4 separate regions of the Homo sapiens genome follow, and regions 1, 3 and 4 are each linked to region 2. The links come from fine-mapping of genetic effects on gene expression. A gene starts in region 2. Each other region holds a variant in brackets. All regions are shown on one strand. Distances are between the middles of the regions.

The links. PIP is the estimated chance that this variant, and not a neighbour inherited with it, causes the effect.
Region 1: its variant is fine-mapped to the expression of DTD1 in whole blood (TOPMed, PIP above 0.99).
Region 3: its variant is fine-mapped to the expression of DTD1 in whole blood (INTERVAL, PIP 0.95).
Region 4: its variant is fine-mapped to the expression of DTD1 in whole blood (TOPMed, PIP above 0.99).

Annotation. Positions count from the first base shown.
Region 1 is chr20:18,465,857-18,471,149 of GRCh38, reverse strand. DZANK1 (double zinc ribbon and ankyrin repeat domains 1) reads left to right here and starts at 4,120. Exons shown (of 21, transcript NM_001367614.1): 1 at 4,120-4,154. It overlaps POLR3F (RNA polymerase III subunit F), which reads right to left and starts at 3,760. Exons shown (of 9, transcript NM_006466.4): 1 at 3,582-3,760; 2 at 2,089-2,206. The coding sequence starts at 3,643. MIR3192 (microRNA 3192) reads right to left here and starts at 535; the gene lies at 459-535. RefSeq lists enhancers at 3,680-3,999, 3,622-4,240. The variant C/T (reference allele first, on the strand shown) is at 2,773.
Region 2 is chr20:18,585,613-18,590,905 of GRCh38, reverse strand. DTD1 (D-aminoacyl-tRNA deacylase 1) reads right to left here and starts at 2,852. Exons shown (of 6, transcript NM_080820.6): 1 at 2,791-2,852. The coding sequence starts at 2,833. It overlaps LOC124904878 (a long non-coding RNA gene), which reads left to right and starts at 3,441. Exons shown (of 3, transcript XR_007067547.1): 1 at 3,441-3,481. RefSeq lists enhancers at 2,316-2,375, 2,216-2,715 and a silencer at 2,486-3,025.
Region 3 is chr20:18,561,024-18,566,316 of GRCh38, reverse strand. It overlaps SEC23B (SEC23 homolog B, COPII component), which reads right to left. Exons shown (of 20, transcript NM_006363.6): 20 at 4,902-5,293. Among named protein-coding and RNA genes, the nearest start is that of SMIM26, 3.8 kb to the left of the region's middle. The variant T/C (reference allele first, on the strand shown) is at 3,270.
Region 4 is chr20:18,741,689-18,746,981 of GRCh38, reverse strand. DTD1 (D-aminoacyl-tRNA deacylase 1) reads right to left here. Exons shown (of 6, transcript NM_080820.6): 5 at 2,711-2,882. The coding sequence ends at 2,730. Among named protein-coding and RNA genes, the nearest start is that of DTD1-AS1, 46 kb to the right of the region's middle. The variant T/C (reference allele first, on the strand shown) is at 2,155.

The sequences.
Region 1 (5,293 bases), 120 kb after region 2:
GGGACTCAGTGTGGGAAACCCAGGAGTTTGAACTTGAATCTCCAGTATAAACAAATTGTAGGTGGTAGAGTGCCTTGGTCAGACCTGCATTTAAGACAGATCAGGGGCCAGGCTCGGTGGCTCATGACTGTAATCCCAAATCAGGCTGGCTTCTCTGAGACAGATGGAGTCATGGAAACCAGTTAAGATGCTACTGCAGCTGTCCAGGTAAAAGCCATGAGCCTGAACATGATGCAGTACCAGGGATAGAAATGGAGGGGGTGTGGACAGCAAATTTAAGAACTGTTTTTAAGAGCTAAAATCAGAAACATTACATGATTTATTAATAATCACTCCCTTTCTTAATATCCTTTGATAGCTCTACTACTGCCTGCATACAACCTATAGCCAATAGGACTCGCAGTGGGTGGGTGGTGGCAGAGGTGGTAAAAGAGAGGTGCTGAAGATGATTTTCAGTCAGAAGGAAAGAGCTGAGAGGGCGATCAGAGGAAGAAAAGAACTTTTTCCACTGCTACAACCTCCCAGAATCCCTTCCTCTGTCTTTCCTAGAGCTGAAGACCTTCACCACAGTGAAATAACTAGAAATCAGCAACATTCCTTTGTCCTTGGGCTAGAACAGGGGTGAGCAATCTGCTCCACAGCTTGTTTTTATAACCAAAGTTTTGTTGGAACATGGCTGTAGCCATTTGTTTATGTATCATCATCCATGGCTGCTTCTTGCTAAAATGACAGTGTAGTTGTGACAGAAATCATATGGCTCACAAAGCCTAAAACATATACTGTCTGGCACTTTATAGAAAAAGTTTGCCAACTCCTGAGCTAGAAAATTGATGGGAAAGGTTTAAGAAAAGATTCATCGGACCCCAAATCTCCACATCCAGAGCCCTTGGAAATCCAACAAGGCTAGTAGACTTAAAAAACAAATCAGTCATTCAGATGAGGCCTTGGCGTAGAACTCTTTAACCTAACTGCTACTAAAGCCAAACTGAAATGCTCTTAGGAAAAGGATGTTTTGGTGATGAGGGAAAGTAAGGGAGATTTAGAGCATCGGCACCACTTGGTGGGTTTTTAGACAGTCTTGCTTGTTTGTTTCTGGACAGATGGAGAATGGCTTCACTGATAAATTCCATTGCAATGTCACTGGGGGCTAAGGCTGCACTTCCTCCCCAAAGCCCAACATTCTTCATTCAACTGGACTCATTCTTGCTTCCTGAAATGCTCAGAGTGACAATGTGGAGAATGAAACCCTGATGACTGGGCTCTGTGACAACTCATAGGAAAATCGGGGGGTGGAATATTTTATGGGAAATGGCCCAACACCAGCAGTAGGAAGCAAACAGAAGGTGAGAACAGACTAGACCTATGTATGGCAGTGGCAATTAATAAATACAACAGTTATACCATAATACATTTATTTCATTTGTCTTATAACGCATAATTATTTCTTCTTTTTTCAATTCAGGTAGTTTGAGCTGTTTCCTGGTTTAGAGTCTTATCAGTCAAACCTAACACACTTTCTCGTTTTATGACTGCTGTATTAGGGTTCTCCAGAGAAAAAGAACCAATAGGATACACCTCCCTCTTGAAAGATTCATCAGAAGCTATTTGCTCTGTGATTATGGAGGCTGAGGAGTCCCATCATCTGCCCTCTGCAAGCTGGAGACCCAGGAAAGCTGGTGTTGCAGATCAAAGGGCTGAGAGCAGAGAGCTGATGGTGTAGATACCAGTCCAAGTCTGAAGGTCTGAGAACCAGGAGTGCTGAGGGCACAAGATTCATAGCCCAGCTCAAGATTGAATTCAAAGAGTGAATTCAATCTTCCTCTGCCACTTTGTTCTATTTAGGCCCTGAATGGATTGGATGATGCTCACCCAACTGGACCCATATCTACTTTACTCCGTTCACCAATTCAAAATGCTAACCTCTTTCAGAAACACCCACACAGACACTCCAATAAAATATTTAACTAGATATGTAGGAATCCTGTATCTTAGTCAAGTTGACATGAAATTAACCATCACAACTACATAATAAAAACCAGTGATAATCAGCATATCAGTAATTATGCAAAATAGTTAGATTCACCTTACCATAGACAACAACCTATTGATGGCTACTGCCCGCTGCTGGGCTTCTATATGAGGCATTTCATTCTGAATTACTTGGTCTGTGATTCCATGAGGGAACTGGTGACATAATTCTATAATCCTAGAAACAAAGGTATTAATGTTATCCTTCATGGTTACCTGTTTCAAGAGACAGTGGGGGTAAAAATACAAGTAGAATAGTTTGAAACTGTGCCTTTTTCACATTTGGCAGACAATCTGGGTTTCTGTGATGGTTTTGGATCAAAGCATGTTAGAAATTGAAGAAGATGATTTCTAAATACATGTTTACAGTATTATTGTTATTTAAGAATATTTCTTTTCCTCACTAATAAGAACTTTAAATTAGAGCAAAAGTCTAATGAAATCACAGAAAAAATATTAAAGCTGAGACTTCAGTTTTCTCGGGTGTAATAAGCATGACAAAGTTAAGCCATAAATCTGCAAGCAGGAGGCAAATGCAGATGTTTCTGGTAGGAAGCCAAAATTTGTTATGACAATTCACCATAATGGGGCCTGTTTTTGGAATTATACCTACCAAACAAAAAAAGTCAAAATCTTCACCTAGTCGACATCAACAAATGTATTATTCCTAACAGTCTGAGAAAGTTGAGTCTTTTAAAACTACGTGAAAATCTAAGAGTGGCAGTGCCTCGGTAAAATATAAAA[C/T]TGGGCCGGGCGCGGTGGCTCACGCCTGTAATCCCAGCACTTTGGGAGGCCGAGGCGGGCGGATCACGAGGTCAGGAGATCGAGACCATCCCAGACAACATGGTGAAACCCCGTCTCTACTAAAACATAAAAAATTAGCTGGGCGTGGTGGCGCGAGCCTGTAGTCCCAGCTACTCGGGAGGCTAAGGCAGGGGAATCGCTTGAACCCGGGAGGCGGAGATTGCAGTGAACCGAGATCGCGCCACTGCACTCCAGCCTGGCGACAGAGCGAGACTCTGTCTCACAAACAAACAAATAAAAATAAAAGTGGCAGAGGCTTTGGGTGTCCTAAAAGTCTTGAGTTCAATACTGCACTGAAACCACCTGGCTTAATGTTACTTCGTAATCACCAACTGCGCCCTAACTCCGCCTAAACGTTTTGTCATAGACGTTCCCTTAGTGACAAGAGCGATCCTGGATCAGAACATGTATTCACAAGTGTTCTACAGGGAAAGAAAGCCGAGGGCTCCTCTCAAAGCACTGATCGCGTCAAAGTAGGAAGGCAGCACGTCATCACAACTTCCCCAAAAGTATCAGGGCAAAGCCAGCCAGCTACACAAAGTTGCAAGCTGTCAAACCCATTTTGAACTTCTTGAGTTCTGCTCTCCCAGGATGGGAAGGAACAAGTGGGTCCAGAACCCCGCAATCGTTTTTCCCGCGTGCTCACCTAACCCGCTCCGGCCACTCCCAAGGGATCCCGGAGAAGGGGTCCAGCTGCCCAAATGACTGGGCGCCTGATGGAGTGCCAAGCCGGAGCCTCACTGGTTTACCTGTTTTCTATTTCGACCGGATCCGCGTCAGGCGGCTGCACCTTCACCTTCACCTCCGCCATGAGGGCGCAGTTCCTGACGCCTGGGGGGAAAGATGCACGGAGCAGCCCGGTAGCAAGCCGGGGAACCCGGGGAACCAGTGGAGGATAGCGCTCTGCTGAGGCCGAGGGGCCTTCTTCCTCGTGTCGCAGCCGGTCCTTCCTTGCCTTTCGGCGGGAGGTGGCCAAGCTGCGCCTGCTCCGGCCCACTTACAGGCGCCGCTACAGCTTCTTATTCTTGTTTTCCAGAATGTCAATGCCCATCGGACGCACAAGCCTGGTTCCTTCATTCTGAGTTGGGAAACCAACTTTTAGCACTTGGCAACTCTGTGAAGGAATATTCTTAGATGCCTATGGGAAAGCACTGGGAAAGGAACTCCAGGCGGGTACCAGGCTCCCTGCGGAGCGGCAGGGGCCGGTCTAGTTGCTAAGAAGCTGAGTCTCCACCAATCATCTGCCCAGCACCCAGTGGGCGGGGCGCGGCTCGCCGCGTCTGTGGTAACCCGGGCGGCGGCGAAGGAGGAGGCAAGAGGCGGTGAGAGGCTGGCGACTGGGTTGGGCGCGGCAGAGATGCATTAGGGGTCCCGATCCCGGGCCCCGCGGTTAGAGGAAGAGGAGGGCGGCTAGAGGAGGGGAAGAGCTTCCCTTACTCCAGCCGAAAGGATGCAGGTGTCCTTGGCAGCCCCTGATGGGCGGGAACAACCAAACGGGATTCCGGATCCGGGCTGCGAGGGGGCGGTCCACGTTGGGAGAGTTGAGGGGTCTGGGGATCCTGTTGACTGCACGTTGCCATTTGGGCCTGGCGGATCCGCCTTTTTTCTTGATTCCCTTTGCGTGGGGCCCACTGGCCACCCCAGCTTCCTAAGGGCAGCTGCTAGTTGACGCTCGCGAATTACTTCCTCTCCTACATATTTTTTATTTAGAATTTTTCAACTACTTTTATTTTATCTGCCTTTCACTTAAATGGAAATGCGACTATGGGCAAGTCTCAAGTCCAGCCACACTCCCGTAGGAGCTATTGTTGTGCTGTCAGTATCTGTAGTTTATATTCTTGGCCCTAGATCCGGAACTATCCAACAAGGCATTAAGTTCACCCCTTAAATTTAGGTACCCCATTTTTGAGAATACAGTCTGTGACAAAGCTCAAACTGCAGACATGTTCAGATCAGCATTATTAGAACTGCAACAGGCAAAACTAAAAAGAAACTAGAAATAGCCTAAATGCCCAGCCACAAATGGATAAATAAGTACAGGGAAAACTAAATAATACAGTGAGAATGCAAGAAGTAGACTATAAAAATGGAATGAATATGTAGATTATAATTGGGCAAAATCTATGGATTATTAATGAAATTTGAAAAGGCAATACAGAGATGTAAATGGTTGTTGTGTTAAGGTGAGCGTTTTTTCCCCCTGAAACCTTCTGTGCATTAATTATGACAACCTTCCTCCCCACCCTCACCTCCAAAAAGACCAGTAAGGCTTTCATACTGGTAGTTAATTATTAATACCAGGATTTATAAATACAGTAGATGAAACGGGAGGCTTGTGTTTATTGGTCACTGTTTATATTCTTGCAAACTTCCTTTCCACTGAGAAGTAGTACTCTGCAGTCCTTCTAAAGTGTCTTTGCAGCTTTCAAATACTAGAACTGCTCTGGTGATAATGGCAAGG
Region 2 (5,293 bases):
TGACAATGAATGATGGGACATGGGGGTTATTGCCCTATTCCGTCTGTTAATATGTTTGAAATGTGCCATAATAAACTTTTAAAAATTAGATTATCACAGTACCCAACCTAAGGCATCAAAATGTGTTTGATCAAGCTGGGTGCAGTGGCTCATGCCTGTAATCCCAGCACTTTGGGAAGCCGAGGCAGGCAAATCACTTGAGGCCAGGAATTTGAGACCAGCCTAGTCAACATGGCAAAACCCTGTCTCCACTAAAAATACAAAAAAATTAGCCAGGCACAGTGGCGCGCACCTGTAAGACCAGCTACTCAGGACACAGAGGCATGAGAATCGCTTGAACCCAGGAGGCAGAGGCTGCAGTGATCAGAGATGGCACCACTGTACTCCAGCCTCGGCAACAGAGCAAGACTCTCTCAAAACAAAAACAAAACCAATTAGCCAATTGGAGAAATCTGATGGACTGGGCATCAAATGATATTACAGGGTTACTATAAAAAAAAATGTGTTTGACCAATCACATAAATTGAATATACCACATAGTAAAATGTGTGACTCCTAAGCTGGACATAGCGGTGGCGGCACACGCCTGTAGTCTAACTACTCAGGATGCTGAAACTAAAGGATCACTTGAGCCCAAGCGTTTGAGGTTGTAGTAAGCTATAATAGTGCCACTGCACTCCAGCCTGGGTGACAGAGCAAGACCCCATCTCTAAAACAAACAAACCATAAATGCATAAATTTAAAATAAATGTGAAGTCAACCAACTATTTTAAAATAAAATAAAATGTGTGACTCCTGATAATCTATGCTGTCCTGACCATAAAACAGGAAGTTAACATTTTAGAACCCCTAAAATAAAATGCCATTCAAACACAGCCACATTTCAGTGAAACCAGCCACATTTTAAAGGAATCAGAAAATCCCTTTCCATTACAATGCAACTAGAAGGCCTGCATAAGTGGAGGGCCCTTCTAACAGAATTCCACAGTTCCCCAACCCAGAATTCCCGAATTATTTACACTTTCCCATAATTAACACCCTTATCTTTTTTAATATGCAGGTTTGGTTGTTTTAACTGAAAGCATATAACTTAAATAGTGAACCAAAATAACCCAAACTCTTATTCAGCACATCTCACAGAATACACATTTTCAATATTCCAGATTAGCAGGATGGAGAGTTCAGGAGAGAGATCAAAATTTAAATCTGTCAGTGACGACCACACACAGCAGCAGACTGCAAGGTTCTTCTCAATAATGCAAAACATCTTTCATCTATGAATTTTCCCAGTTTTCATGAATTTAAATATCTACAGAAATGTTATAAAAGCTTTAAAATTCCTAAATCCCAGTGCTACTCTATTCCCTATTATTCCAGGACCATTTCCAAAACCAAAGCTACCAGAACAGCTTAGAAATCATTAGGCGGGGTTGAAAAATAGACTCTTAGATTTAAATATACGGTTTTGGTGGGTTTGGTTGTTTCTTTAGGGTTTTTTGTTGTTTTTGTTTTGTTTTGTTTTTTGTTTTGGGGTTTTGTTTGTTTGTTGTTTTTTGAGACAGAGTCTCGCTCTGTCGCCCAGGCTGGAGGTTACTGGCACAATCTCGGCTCACTGCAACCTCTGCCTCCCGGGTTCAAGCGATTCTCCTACCTCAGCCTCCCGAGTAGCTGGGATTATAGGCACCAACCACCGCTCCCGGCTAATTTTTGTATTTGTAGTAGAGATAGGGTTTCTCTATGTTGGCCAGGCTGGTCTCGAACTCCTGGCCTCAGGTGATCTGCCCGCCTTGGCCTCCCAAAGAGCTGGGATTACAGGTGTGAGCCACAGCCCCCGGCCTGTTTTGTTTTTAATTCATACTTTTGTGGACACAAGAACGCATATTTGGTGCAGACTGGCTCCAAGGACAGGATATCTGAAATTATTTGAACTGAAACAATATAGTTGTGCCAATAAAGACAGAAAAGACTAAAGACAATATAAAGCTTGTCATTTAAATGTTTTTTAAAAAATATCTTTCGTACCGTGGTTTTCTTAAAACGACTACTTTATCTACACTAATCATCTGGACCTCTGATGCCCAACCGAGACGAAAGTGCTGAGTGATGACCAGGGGTCGGGTAGCTTGGTCCACAAGAAAAAGAGAAATGTTTTCATCTTGAATTCTTTAGATCCCGACCCCTCCGCGCAGAGTTCAGCGGGCGAGGGCGAGGGGCGTCCTGGGCAGGGGGCGCCCCTCATCCAGCCTAGGCTCCAGTCACGTACGTGCACGCAACTGTCAAAGCTCAGCCCAAGGAGCAACTCTCCGCATCTGTGCATTTCATCCTGAGTCAAGCCCCATAAAAATTGGAATACGTAAAAATGGGCAAAAATTGAACATTTAAAATACAGCAGTGAAAAGGGAGGAGTGCCTGCTCCGGAAATGCTCTAAGCGTGGTTCATCAACACTCCCTGAAGAGCGGACCACGGAGATGCTCCGAGGCTCCGCCATCCCGCACGCAGGACAAAGGTGCTGAGAATGAGGCGCGCTGGTCCTGCACCCTCTGCCGAGAGCCGGAAGCCAGGGGCGCGCCGGGGCCGGTCGGGCACGTGCAGGGGGCTCTCCGGCCGCCGCGCTGCCCCGAAGCCGGCCCTGGGGACTCGCGGCTGCGCGGACCGAGCTCGCGAAGGGGACCAGGCTCGCGGAGGGGCCGCAGCGGCCCCAAGGATGGCGCAGGAAGACCCCCCACGCAAGACAGCCGGTCGCGGGGGTCAGGGGCGGCTCCTCCCGGGCCCGGCCCCGCCCGACTGACCTGTGACGCTGGCCCGGGTGACGCGCTGCACCACGGCCTTCATGGCGGCGGCTGGGGCGAGTGGGGCGGCGCCGCGCTGCGTCCGGCCTCGCGACTCTGAGGGCGGCTCCGCAGCCGGCGCCCTCTGGAGGTGACACCCGGAAGCGCGCCCAACTGGCCGGTCCGACTCGGTCGGCTGCTACCCACCCCACGTCGGCCACGCCCACTCTCGGCCTGGCGATAGGCCCACCCACTCATAGATTGACTCCGCCTATGCCTGCCACGCCCACCTGCTGCCCAACCGTAACCCCGCCCGTCATTGAAAAGCCCAGTCCCCACGCTCGGCCCTGCCCCATCCACATCTGGGTCCCGCCAGAGCCCTTTGATCCCCCCATCCCGGGCCCAGCCCCTACCCAGTGCCCAGAACCCACTCTGCCCCGAAGGTAGTCTCTATGCTGGTTTTTTTCTCCCACATACCCGAACCTAAGAACCCGTCATCACTAAGCCTTTAAATTCAGCCTGAATCCTATTTCTAATTGTATTCCTCTTTCCTCTTCCACTCCTCTGCACGCAGATCCTCCCAAATTCTTCTTCCTTGTCTTCCTGCCTCAGTGGCTTTTCAGATACCACATACAAAAGGATCTGCTGCCTAAAATAGCCATTTACCTATCTCACTATTAATTCGACTTAGCCATGTCATGATAATAAATAGGTATGTGATTCTAGAATTCTAATTTCTCATGTAATATAAATGCTACTAATTGGCCCCCTCACTGGGTTGTTAGATTTAAATGAACCAAACCACGTAAAAGTGCTTAGATGGCAGCAAAGGGCTGTACAACTATTACCCCAACAAATTATTATCATTGCTAAAAATAATTCCATCTCAGCAGTCTTCACCTTAAAGGTGACTAATAGCATTGGTGGGCGTAGAAAAGGCACTGAAATTGAGAAGAAACCCTCACTTGCCCAGAAAAGACTACAAACTAGTGTGCTTGTTTGTTAAATACTGAATACTAAATTGCCTTAATAACGTTGTCAAAGTTAACATAACCAGTAACAAGACATCATGTGCCTCCTGATATTGCACTGGGAAGGACACAACATCAATCTTGTGGTATTTCTGCCAAATAATGTATAACCTGAATCCAATCATGATGAAACATAGGACAAAAATAAATTGAGGAACATTCTACAAAATAACCAGGTAGGATTCCGAGAATTAAGGAGGATTTTTTTTTTTTTTTTTTTTGAGATGCAGTTTTGCTCTTGTGGCCCAGGCTGAAGTGCAATGGTGTGATCTTGGCTATCCACAACTTCTGCCTCCTGGGTTCAAGCAATTCTTCTGCCTCAACCTCCTGAGTAGCTGGGATTACAAGCATGCGCCGCCACGCCCGGCTAATTTTGTATTTTTATTAAAGATGAGATTTCTCCATGTTGGTCAGGCTGGTCTCGAACTCCCGACCTCAGGTGATCTGCCCGCTTTGGCCTCCCAAAGTGCTGGGATTACAGGCATGAGCCACTGCGCCCAGCCGTGGACTTTTTAAAAGACAGGAAAACTACCTGTAATCCCAGCACTTTGGGAGGTCAAGGTGGGCGGATCATTGGAGGTCAGGAGTTCGAGGCCTGCCTGGCCAACATGGTGAAACCCCGTCTCTACTAAAAATACAAAAATTAGCCAGGCATGGCAGCGCATGCCTGTAATCCCAGCTACTCGGGAGGCTGAGGCAAGAAAATTGCTTGAACCCGGGAGGCGGAGGTTACGGTGAGCCGATATCGTGCCACTGCACTCCAGCCTGGGTGACAAAGCAAGACTCTGTCTCAAAAAAAAAAAAAAAAAAAAAAAAGACAGGAAAACTAAATTAACCTGGGTGGTATCCTGGCCAGAAAAATCAAGAAAAGGAAAAGCTTATTATTGGAACAACTGGTAAAATTTGAGTTTTTGAAAAATCAGCAGGTCTCAATATTTTGATCACAGGATCCCTTTACATTCTTAAAAATTATTGGGCACAAAGTATAGCTTTTGTTTAGGTGGATTATATCTAAAAATGTTTACTGTTTTTAACTAAGAGAAATAGTTAACATGGATTTATCAATGCATTTAAAAATAGCAATAATAAATCCCCTACATATGAATATCAGAGCAATGAAGTCACTATATGTCACGGAGCCCCTGGAAAACTCCATTGTGCACTCCTGAAAGAATAAGACTAAAAAAGGGAAAATTGGGCTGGTCGTGGTGGTTCACGCCTGTAATTCCAGCACTTTGGGAGGCTGAGGCAGGTGGATCACTTGAGGTCAGGAGTTCAAGACCAGCCTGGCCAACATGGTGAAACCCCATCTCTACTAAAAATACAAAAATTAGCCAGGCGTGATGGTGGGCACCTATAATCCCAGCTACTTGGGAGGCTGAGGCACAGGAATCACTTGAAACCGAGAGGCGGAGGTTGCAGTGAGCCAGGATCACTGCCACTGCACTCCAGCCTGGGTGACAAAGTAAACCTGTGTCTCAAAAAAAAAAAAA
Region 3 (5,293 bases), 25 kb after region 2:
AAATGGATAAATAGGGCTTTTAAAAAAAAATTAAAATTTTTGCTCTTTGAAGGTCACAGTTGAGAAAATGAAAAGCCAAGCCACAGAATAAAATATTCATAATAACATATATCTAACAAAAGGACTTGGATCCAGAATATATGAGGACGCTTTACAACTCAGTTATAAAAATACAGCCCAACTAAAAACCAGGCAATAAATTTGAATAGAACGAAAGAAGATATACAAATGACCAATAAGCACAGTAGCATCATTAGTCATCACAGAAATGGACATTAAAAGAATACAATAAGAGACCATTACACACCTACTAGAATGGCTAAAATCAGATTGAGAATGCCAAGAGCTGTAAGGATTTGGAATAATTGGAACTGTTATTGATGGGAACATAAAATGTTACAATCTCTTTGCAAAACTTAGTTTTTAAAAAGTTGAACATATGCCTACCATATAACCCAGGCATTCCGTTTCTAGTTATCCATGAGAAATGAAAACCTGTGTCTGCACACAGCCATGTACATGAATGTTCATAGTTTTATTCTTAATAGGAAAAAATAGAAACCACCCCCAATACCCATCGAGTAAATGGCTAAACAAAACGTGGGATACCACTTACAAATAAAAAGGAACTACTGGCTGGGTACGGGTGGCTCACACCTGTAATCCCAGCACTTTGGGAGGCCAAGATGGGTGGGTCACCTCAAGTCAGGAGATCGAGACCAGCCTGGCCAACATGGTGAAACCTCGTCTCCACTAAAAATACAAAAATTAGCCGGGCATGGTGGCGGGCGCCTGTAATCCCAGCTATTCCAGAGGCTGAGACAGGAGAATTACTTGAATCCAGGAGGCGGAGGTTGTGGTGAGCCGAGATTACACCACTGCACTCCAGCCTGGGTGACAGAGTGAGACTCCTTCTCAAAAAAAAAAAAAAAAAAAAAAAAAAAGAACTACTGATAAATACAACCATACGATGAATCTCAAAATGGATTATGCTAAGTGAAAAAGCAAGCTAGACACCAAAGAAACCAGTCACGAAATTCTAGAAGCAAACTCCAGTGGGAGAAAGCTGATGAGTAGTTGTCTGCAGTAAGGGCATGGAGAGAGGGAAGGGCTAAAAGGGTCTGAGGAGACTTTGAGAGGTGATGGTAATGTTCTGTATGTTGATTATTGTGGTGGTTTCTGTCAAGATTTATCCAATTGTATGCTTTAAATGGGTGCAGTTTATTATATGTGAACTATAGCTCAATAGTTATAGACAAAACAGAAAAATTGGTATTGTTTCAAGCTTGCGTCTCTTCTCATCCTTCTCATCAGCCTTACTCATGATACCTATGTTATATGTTAATAACTCTCAAATCTACTCCAGATTCTCTGAAAGCAAATTCATGTTACTGCCAACCTGCTATGCATCCTCGGCTGCATATTCCACAAGCTCCTGAAACTAAAAAAATGTTCCGAATTGAATTTATCAATGCCACTCCCAACAGGAAACAAACCTTCCCTTTCTCTTCCCTGATTCAGAGAGTGATTGAGAAATTGCCCAAGCCAGGAACTTGGAATCATCTCACCTGACATCCTCTGTCACCTCTGTCTAAATACCCTGTCTCTGTTTAGGCCTCATTTCTCACTTGGATTACAGTCTCCTCTCATCCTTCCCCCTCTGGAGTGTCTTTCAAACCTTAAATTATCATTTCACCCTCTGCCTAAGATAAGTCAGAGGCTTGCCCTACCTTCAAGATGGAGTTCAATACCCACAAAAATTAACAATTAATAAAAAGATGGAGTTCAGAGTCCTCACTGGGCATACTGGGCTCAGTGGCCCCTTCTCATGATAGCTGTTTTCCACACAGCACTATCACCCTGCCACCCCCTACATTCTGTGGAAAAACGTCACTGGTACCCTAAGGTGGGACCTGCATGGCCATGTCATACCATGCAGTTCCCTCAGCTCCTTAACTCACTGACACTAGAGAGAACCGCAGAGTTAGCTGGGTCTATCACACAGTCTTTTTTCTGTTAATTTGAAACAGAAAAGCCAAAGAGGATGTTTTGGCCTTAATCTGTACAGACAACTTTATGTATTCTTCTATATGATGTGTTAAAAATTATATCCAAAACTAAAAATATTCTTGGAAAACGCACAGAAAAATGTAAATGTTCAACTTTTTTTTTTTTTTTTTTTTTTGAGATGAAGTCTCCCTCTGTCACCCAGGCTGGAGTATAGTGGCGTGACCTCAGCTCACTGCAACCTCCACCTCCGAGGTTCAAGTGATTCTCCTGCCTCAGCTTCCCAAGTAGCTGGGATTACAGGTGCCCACCACCACTCCTGGCTAATTTTTTAATATTTTTAGTAGAGATGGGGTTTCACCATGTTGGCCAGGCTGGTTTTGAACTCCTGACCTCAAGTGATCTGCCCACCTCAGCCTCCCAAAGTGCTAGGATTACAGGTGTGAGCCACCGCACCTGGCCAATGTTCAACATTTTAAGATAGGAAACTCTGCTAGAATTCTGCTAGAATGTAGGGCAGAGACAAAAAGAAATACAATAACTTGTATTCGAATACAAATTCAAAACAGAGTATTGCAATCAATCCAGCTGTTCCAACATCCAATTAATAGGAGCTTCCAGCTTCATTTTCCTACATAGCACTCATTACCTTCTAATGTATCATTTACTTCATTTCTTTTTTGTTTTTTATTTTTTTGAGACGGAGTCTCGTTCTGTTGCCCAGGCTGGAGTGCAGTGGCACAATCTCACTGCAACCTCCATCTCCTGGGTTCAAACAATTTGTCCCTGCCTCAGCCTCCCAAGTAGCTGGGATTACAGGTGTGCACCACCATGCCTGGCTAATTTTTGTATTTTTAATAGAGAAAGGGTTTCGCCATGTTGGCCAGGCTGGTCTCAAACTCCTGACCTCAGGTGATCCGCCCACTTCGGCCTCCCAAAGTGCTGGGATTACAGGCATGAGCCACCACGCCCGGCCATATCATTTACTTCTAACATTGTTATTGTTGGTCTTCCCTAACTAACACATAAGCTCTATGAAAACAGGAATTTTTGTTTTATTGGCAGTATTCCCAATGCCTAGAAGACTACTCCATAGACAACAAGTACCGGATAGTTATTTGTTGAACGAATGAAAGAATGACTCCAAAGTTCTGAGATTATCTTGGGCCTATACTTTTTAGACCCAGTGGGTTAGTCTGTCTTTGGATCTCTGTAATGGAACACCCGAGACTGGGTAATTTATTTTAAAAAGAGGTTTACGG[T/C]TTATGCTTATGGCTTACGGTTCTGTAGGCTGTACAGGACGCATGGTGCCAGCATCTGCTTCTGGTGAAGGCCTCAGGAAGCTTACAATCAGGGCAGAAGGTGAAGAGGTAGCCCGATGTACCACATGGCAAGAACGAGAGGAAGAGGTGGGGGAGGTAACACTTTAAAAAAATTTTTTTTGAGACAGTCTCGCTCTGTCCCCCAGGGAGTGCAGTGGTGCGATCTCGGCTCACTGCAACCTCTGCCTCCTGGGTTCAAGCCATTCTCATGCCTCGGCCTCCTGAGTAGCTGGGATTACAGGCGCAAGCCACCACACCCGGCTAATTTTTGTATTTTTAGTAGAGATGGGGTTTCACCATGTTGGCCAGGCTGGTCTCAAACTCCTGACCTCAGGTGATCTGCCCGCCTCAGCCTCCCTAAGTGCTGGGATTATAGGCATGAGCCACTGTGCCCAGCCAACACACTTTTAAACAATCATACCTCATTTGAACCCAGGACAAGAACTCACTCATTTCTGTGAGGATGGCACCAAGCCATTCATGAAGGATCCAGCGGTATGACCCAAACTCCTCCTACCAGGCCCCACCTCCAATCCTGGGGATTACATTTCAATGACGGACTTGGAGGGGACAAATATCCAAACTATATTACCTGGCAAAGCTATAAAGTGTGAAGACAGAATAGATTTGCAGATATGCTAAGATGCAGTGAGTTCTCCCCAAGTACTCCTTTTAGTAAAAGTCATTTGAGATTGCAAAATGCCTTATGGAATAAAGGGAAGAGTGGAACTAACCCGAGATTCCAAACAGAAGAAATTCCTGGATGACAGTTGTGCAGTAGGTCAAAGTTATTGGCCCCCCTTAAAAGGGGACATCAGTGGCCTCCAAAGAAGAAAAAAATGGACTTCATTCAGTAGAATAGGCTAGAATTTCTTAGTAAATAGAAAGCAAAATATTTCTTCTCTCAGAAAGCAAACAAAATTTAGAAATTCTGGGGAAAACCACAGCAAATCTAAGAAATCATAATCCAAATAGGGATCAAACCAACATGCGGCATGATGGAATGTAAGAAAGTAACTCTGATTCTGTCCTTTGGAATGTTTTCCTACAAGTGACATAGGGACTGACTGGGACACTAGCACCCTAGAGAAAAATGTCATCCTACCTGGCTTGGACTGGAACAATATTTACATCATCACGGCTGTGTAAATGCTTCTTAGGAGCTTTCAGCTTTGACAATCAACTTAGTGACAAAAAATATGATAATAGGCCAGAATATAATCTCTTTTTTTTCCTGAAACAGGGTCTTGCTCTCCCACCCAGGCTGGAGTGCAGTGGCATGATGAGAGCCCACTGCAACCTTGAACTCCTGGGCTCAAGTGATCCTCCTGCCTTAGCCTCCCAAGTAGCTAGGACTACAGTCACACACCACCATGGCCCAGTAACTTTTAAAATTTTTTGTAGAGACAGTCTCGCTATGTTGCCCAGGCTGGTCTTAAACTCCTGGCCTCAAGTGAGTCTCCTGCATTGGCCTCCTAAATTTAGCACTGGGATTACAGGTGTGAGCCACTGTATCTGACCCAGAATATACATTTTACCAATCTTGATAATATAAAAATAAAAATACAAAAATGACCAAAGGTATATTAATATATTGATTCTTTGAAAATGAGAATTGAGACATGGGCTAAAATTAAATACATCAACAACAAAAATCTTGTAAGGAGAGGTTAAAAGCAGTTATCTTCAAAAAGTAGGTCTGAGTTTATAGAGTGGAGGTAACTTATTTGTTATGAGCTCTTTAGGATAAGGTATATTTGTTTCATTTTGATCCTGCATATACATTACTTTAATTATGAGAATTAGGTTCAGGAAACACCTCTTAAGGAAGTCACTTAAAACACATACACACTCACACAGAGACCTCAGGAAATCACATTTGTATTAGCAATATTTTAGCCAGTACTTTCTGCATCTAGATTTATTTCCTTTATGATCATTAAGATTCTCACCTAAACAAGCTG
Region 4 (5,293 bases), 160 kb before region 2:
GGCACCCTTCAGTGTCCCATGCATACGTGAGATACATAAGCCAAGGCTGGTCACCACAGTGCTGTTGTCTCCCTGCACAACACTAGCAGGAAAACACAGTGATGAGGGAACAGTTAAGAGGACAACAGGACTCACTGTCCAGTCCCCTCCCCTAAAACTGTCTATGAACCAACAATCCACCCTTCCTGAGCTCTCCATTCTGTTCCTCTCGTCTGTGTATCCATTTGGGAGCTGGTGCCACTGTGCCCAATTACAACTAATGTATCTTTTTTAAATTTTATTTTTAAGAGTCAGGGTCTCACTCTGTCACCCAGGCTGGAGTGCAGTGCTGCAATCATGGCTCACTGCAGCCTCCAACTCCCAAACTCAAGCAATCCTCCCACCTCAGCTTTCTGAGTAGCTAGGATGATAGGCAAGCACCACCATGCTCAGCTAATTTTTTTTTTTAAGAGACGGGGGTCTCACCATGTTGCCCAGGCTGGTCTCAAACTCTTGGGTTCGAGTGATTCTCTCACTTCAACCTCCCAAAGTGCTAGGATTACAGGTGTAAGCCACCACACCTGGCCTAATATATCTCACTTCCTGGTATTGTGGATCCTAAAAGCCATTTCATAGGTACACTTCTGACCCTTGCTCTCTTTCAGAAGAGAAAGAGAAGGCTGAAAACCACCTTCTGGATGTTCTTCTATCATAATTTGGTGTCTCTTGGGTGAATTCTGTCTCCTAACTTGGTTTTAACCACAGTCTGTGAGCTGAAGGCTCCAAATTGTATGTCCGAGACCTGGCTCCCCAGCTCTAAAGCCACAGACTCAGCAGACGACTGGCATCACCATTGGCTGCCAACAGGCACCTCAAACACAACACACCCAAAATAGGTACCGTCAGCAACCCCCATCTTCCTCCCTCATCCTTCTGGATGTCTCCTCTTCCAATCTAATCAGTCACCACGTTGAAATGATTCTATTTCCTTTACATCTTTCAATCCCACTCTTTCCCCTCTGTTCCTACTATAATTTTTTCTCTGGACTTCTGCAATCACCTCCTAATGGGCCTATCTGCTTCCAGCCTCACTCCCCAAAGCTGCTCAAGTGAGTGCTCTTTTTAAACTTTGTATCTGATGATGTCACTTGTACACTTAAAACCTTTCAGAGGTCCCTCCCGCCCCAGGATAAAATCCAAATTCCTCAGGGTTGCATACCAGACCCTATACAATCCAGACCTCCTATTTCTCTAAGTTCAGAGATGCTCCCTGCCCTCCCACTCCACTTGGCACTCAACACTCCCACCCTTCTGCAATTCCTCCATTCCCAAACTCTCCTGTCCTTGCCCCCCAACCTCCAGATGGCATTTGCACTGCTCTTCTCTTGGCTCAGGCAGCTCTCCCCTGCCCTTGCCCCTCATCTGCCTCCCCACTGCCACCTGTCCTTCCAGATCTGGTCCCAGGCCTCTGAGGGGCCTCTCCTGACCTCCCATCTCCACCCCACACCTGTTCACACTCCTGCCACACGCACCGTGCTGTAGTATAACTGTTCCTATGCTTCTCCCTGAGCCTGTGACCTCCCCATGACAGGTCCTGGGTCCCTCAAATCTGCACCCAGTATTTGGTCCAGTGCTTGGCAAAATAAACAGGTTCCCTGGTGGGAGGAACTAGGCACAGTGCCATCAGATGGCCGCATCACATTTTCAAGGCCTCTGATGTTCAGGCAGGGAGGTGGACTCCGTGCTACAGTGAGCCACAATAAGAATAAAATGCCATTTTAGGAAAAGTAAACTCACAGTGCCACACGGGGCACTGTGAAGGATTTCAGAACACGGGGCAGGTGGCAATGAAAGTAGGCTGCTGAGATGGCAGTGCCCTTTGCTAGAGTGGCTAAGAGCAGGAAGGGAGATGCAGGAGCGCAAGTGGACTCTGCATCTGCATCTGGATTCTGTATCGGTGAGTGAGTGTTCTGCACAGGCAATCACAGCAGCAGCTGTGGACTGGCACAGGCAGCCAGAGAAGGTGGCACAAACAGGTTCCACCCCCAGGTGGGCACCCCAGGCCTGTGGTATGCCACCCTCCTGCATCTCAATGAATAAAATACAATCTTATTTGCTAACTGATATGGTTTGGCTGTGTCCCCACCCAAATCTCATCTTGAATTGTAGCTCCCA[T/C]AATTCCCACGTAGGAACACACACGTGGAAATTATGGGAACTACAATTCAAGATGAGGGGCCTGGTGGGAGGTAACTGAATCATGGGGGCAGTTTCCCCCATACTGTTCTCTTGGTAGTGAACAAGTCTCACAAGAGCTGATGGTTTTATAAGGGGAAACCCCTTTCACTTGTTTTTTGTTTTTTTTTTTTGAGATGGAGTCTTGCTCTGTCACCAGGCTGGAGTGCTTGACCCTTATACTCTCTTGCCTGCCGCCATGTAAGAAATGCCTTTTGCCTTCAACCATGATTGTGAGGCCTCCCCAGCCACGTGGAACTGCGAGTCCATTAAACTTCTTTATCTTTATAAATTACTCAGTCTCAGGTATGTCTTTATCAGCAGCGTGAAAACGGACTAACACACTAACTTTTGTCTCCATCCTGGAAGGCAGCAGATTTAAGGAAGCTATGGATGAACGCTGTGAAATGAATGAATTCAGCCTCAGCAGCTATTCCCTCCTATTCATTGCTGCTTCCCCAAAATGTGGGAAGATGAAGCCAAGCAGGGAAACTCCTACCTGAATTCTGCCTCCTGAGCTACGGCTCCCGTTCAGAGGACACGTCGCCCTCAGCCCCGCTGCTGGCACTGCGGTCTTCTTTTCGGGGAGTGTTTCTTTCCTTGCTTGATTCAGAAGGTCCCTTAGCTCTGGTCTTTTCTTTCCTCTGCTGCTGTTTTTCGAGCTTTGACAGCTGATTAAATAAAAATAAAAAAGAATATTTTACAAACACAAACACATGCCTGTGTATCCCACACACCAGTGACTTCCCAGGTGGGAACCATTGAAAAGTTTTTTTCTGATAACCTGGCAGAGCACAGTGGTTCAGATATACCAAATTATACACAGAATGTTTTTCCAACAGGCACCTGAATCACTGAAACAAATCATTAGTCATAGGAGTAATCACTCTCAGACTTTTCCCCAACCATAATTCAACTTGGCACACAGTATGAGGGAGCGGTCATGCCACAGCCTTCTTCAACAGCCTTAGAAGAGCTCCATATATGAAGGCTTTTCATCTCTTACTTTTTTCTTTGATAGTTTTTTTTCTCATCAAGTTACCTTCTACTTGTTGTTTTCTTTTTTCTTTTCTTTTCTTTTTTTTTTTTTTTTTTTTGAGACAGGGTCTCACTCTGTTGCCCAGGCTGAAGTACAGTGGTGCGGTCACAGTTCACTGCAGCCTCAACCTCCTGGGTTCAAGTGATCCTCCCACCTCAACCTCTCAAGTATCTGTGACTACAGGTGCATGCCAATTTTTCTGTAGAAACAGAGTTTCACCATGTTGCCCAAGCTGTTCTTGAACTCCTGGGCTCAAGCAACCCACCCACCTCGGCCTCCCAAAGTGTTGTGATTACAGGTGTGAGCCACCATGCCACACCACGTGTTTTCTAAAGAATGTTCAAAACACATTACTCTTTGCTGAAGATTACAGAGAAGGCTGTGAAACAAAGTGCATTAAGCACACTGAACACCGTCTCAGTTACCAGTTGATTTGAGACTGAAGGCTGACTTGCTTGCAGGCTGCGTGGTGGCAACACTCAGGACACTGGCCACTAGAGCCTTCTTAGGCTCCCACCAGGCCAGCAGGGGACATGCCCCTGATGTCTCACTCGAATGGAACCTGGGCCCACTTCTTCCCTGAATAGTTCTTCAAAGAAAGCATCAGCTAGATGGCTGAAAGAAGCTTCCATCATCTAACACTGAGCAGCAGCCCAGCCACTACAGGAAAGCCTGCTGAGAAACCCAGCAGAGAAGACCGGCCAAGTTTTGAACCACGGAATTTTCTTAGACCAAAAAACACAAGAGACAGCAATACCCAGTTTTATCTCCCTCCCAGACTAAGTCTGTGAACTTTTTCTAGTTTACATAAAAAGAAGGAAACTTATTGAAGGGCTGGCTTCTCCCTGCTGGTCCCTGCCCCACATCCAAGACACAAAGAGGATTCACTTCCCCCAATCTGCCAGATCATTTCTTCCACTATGAACAGACTTTGAGTTAACCCTTCGAGAGATGAACAACCAACCAGTAGCTCTCAATTGGGTCCAGGAAATCAAATTTATTAATAATTGACTTATAGTAGTGGTCCCCAACATTTTTGGCACCAGGGACCGGTTTTATAGAAGACAATTTTTCTGTGAGATGGGGGACAGAAGAGGGGATGGTTTCAGGATGAAACTGTTCCATCTCAGAGCATCAGACATTGGTGAGATTCTCATAAGAAGCCTGCAACCTAGATCCCCCGCATGCACAGTTCACAATGGGGTTCCCGCTCCTATGAGAATCTAAGGCCACTGCTGATCTGACAGGAGGCGGAGCTCAGGTGATAATGCTCGTTCATAGGCTGCTCACCTCCTGCTGTGCAGACTAGTTCCTAACAGGCCACAGGGATTAGTACCGGTCCCTGGCCTGGGGGTTGAGGACCCCTGGCTTATTCTTTCCTACTCCCCATTTACCTGAAAAGCTGTAGAATACAGCTAAGTTTGGTTAATATACTAATTAGATTTTGTGAATGAAGACATCACTTCACCTTTGACTCAGCAACTCTCCTCCGAAAACTCCCCTGGATAAATTTCCACTTGTGTGCACAGTGGGGGCTTCTGAGAACATGGACTGTAGTGTCATTTGTATTTGCAAAAACCTAGAAACAACCCAAATGTCCATCAACATTAGGAGGACAGATACGTGTAATGTGGTCTGGTCCCCTAAAGCAATATTGTACAGTAGATCTACATATATCAAAATAGCCAAGTCTTGGTCAGAGGTGGTGGCTCATGCCTGCAATAGCGGCACTTTAGGAGACCAAGGTGGGCGACTGCTTGGGCTCAGGAGTTTGAGACCAGCCTGGGCAACATAGAGAGACCCTGTCTCTACAAAAAAAAAAAAAAAAAAAAAATACAAAGGTTAGCCAGGCGTGGTGGCACATGCCTGTAGTCCCAGCTACTGGGGAGGCTGAGACGGGAGGATCGCTTGAGCCCAGCAAGCAGAGGTTACAGTAAGTTGAGATCATGTCACTGCACTCCAGCCTGGGTGACAGAGGAAGACTGTCTCAAAAAAAATTTTTTTTAATTAAAAAAAATAGATAAATCTTGAAAATCATGTTAT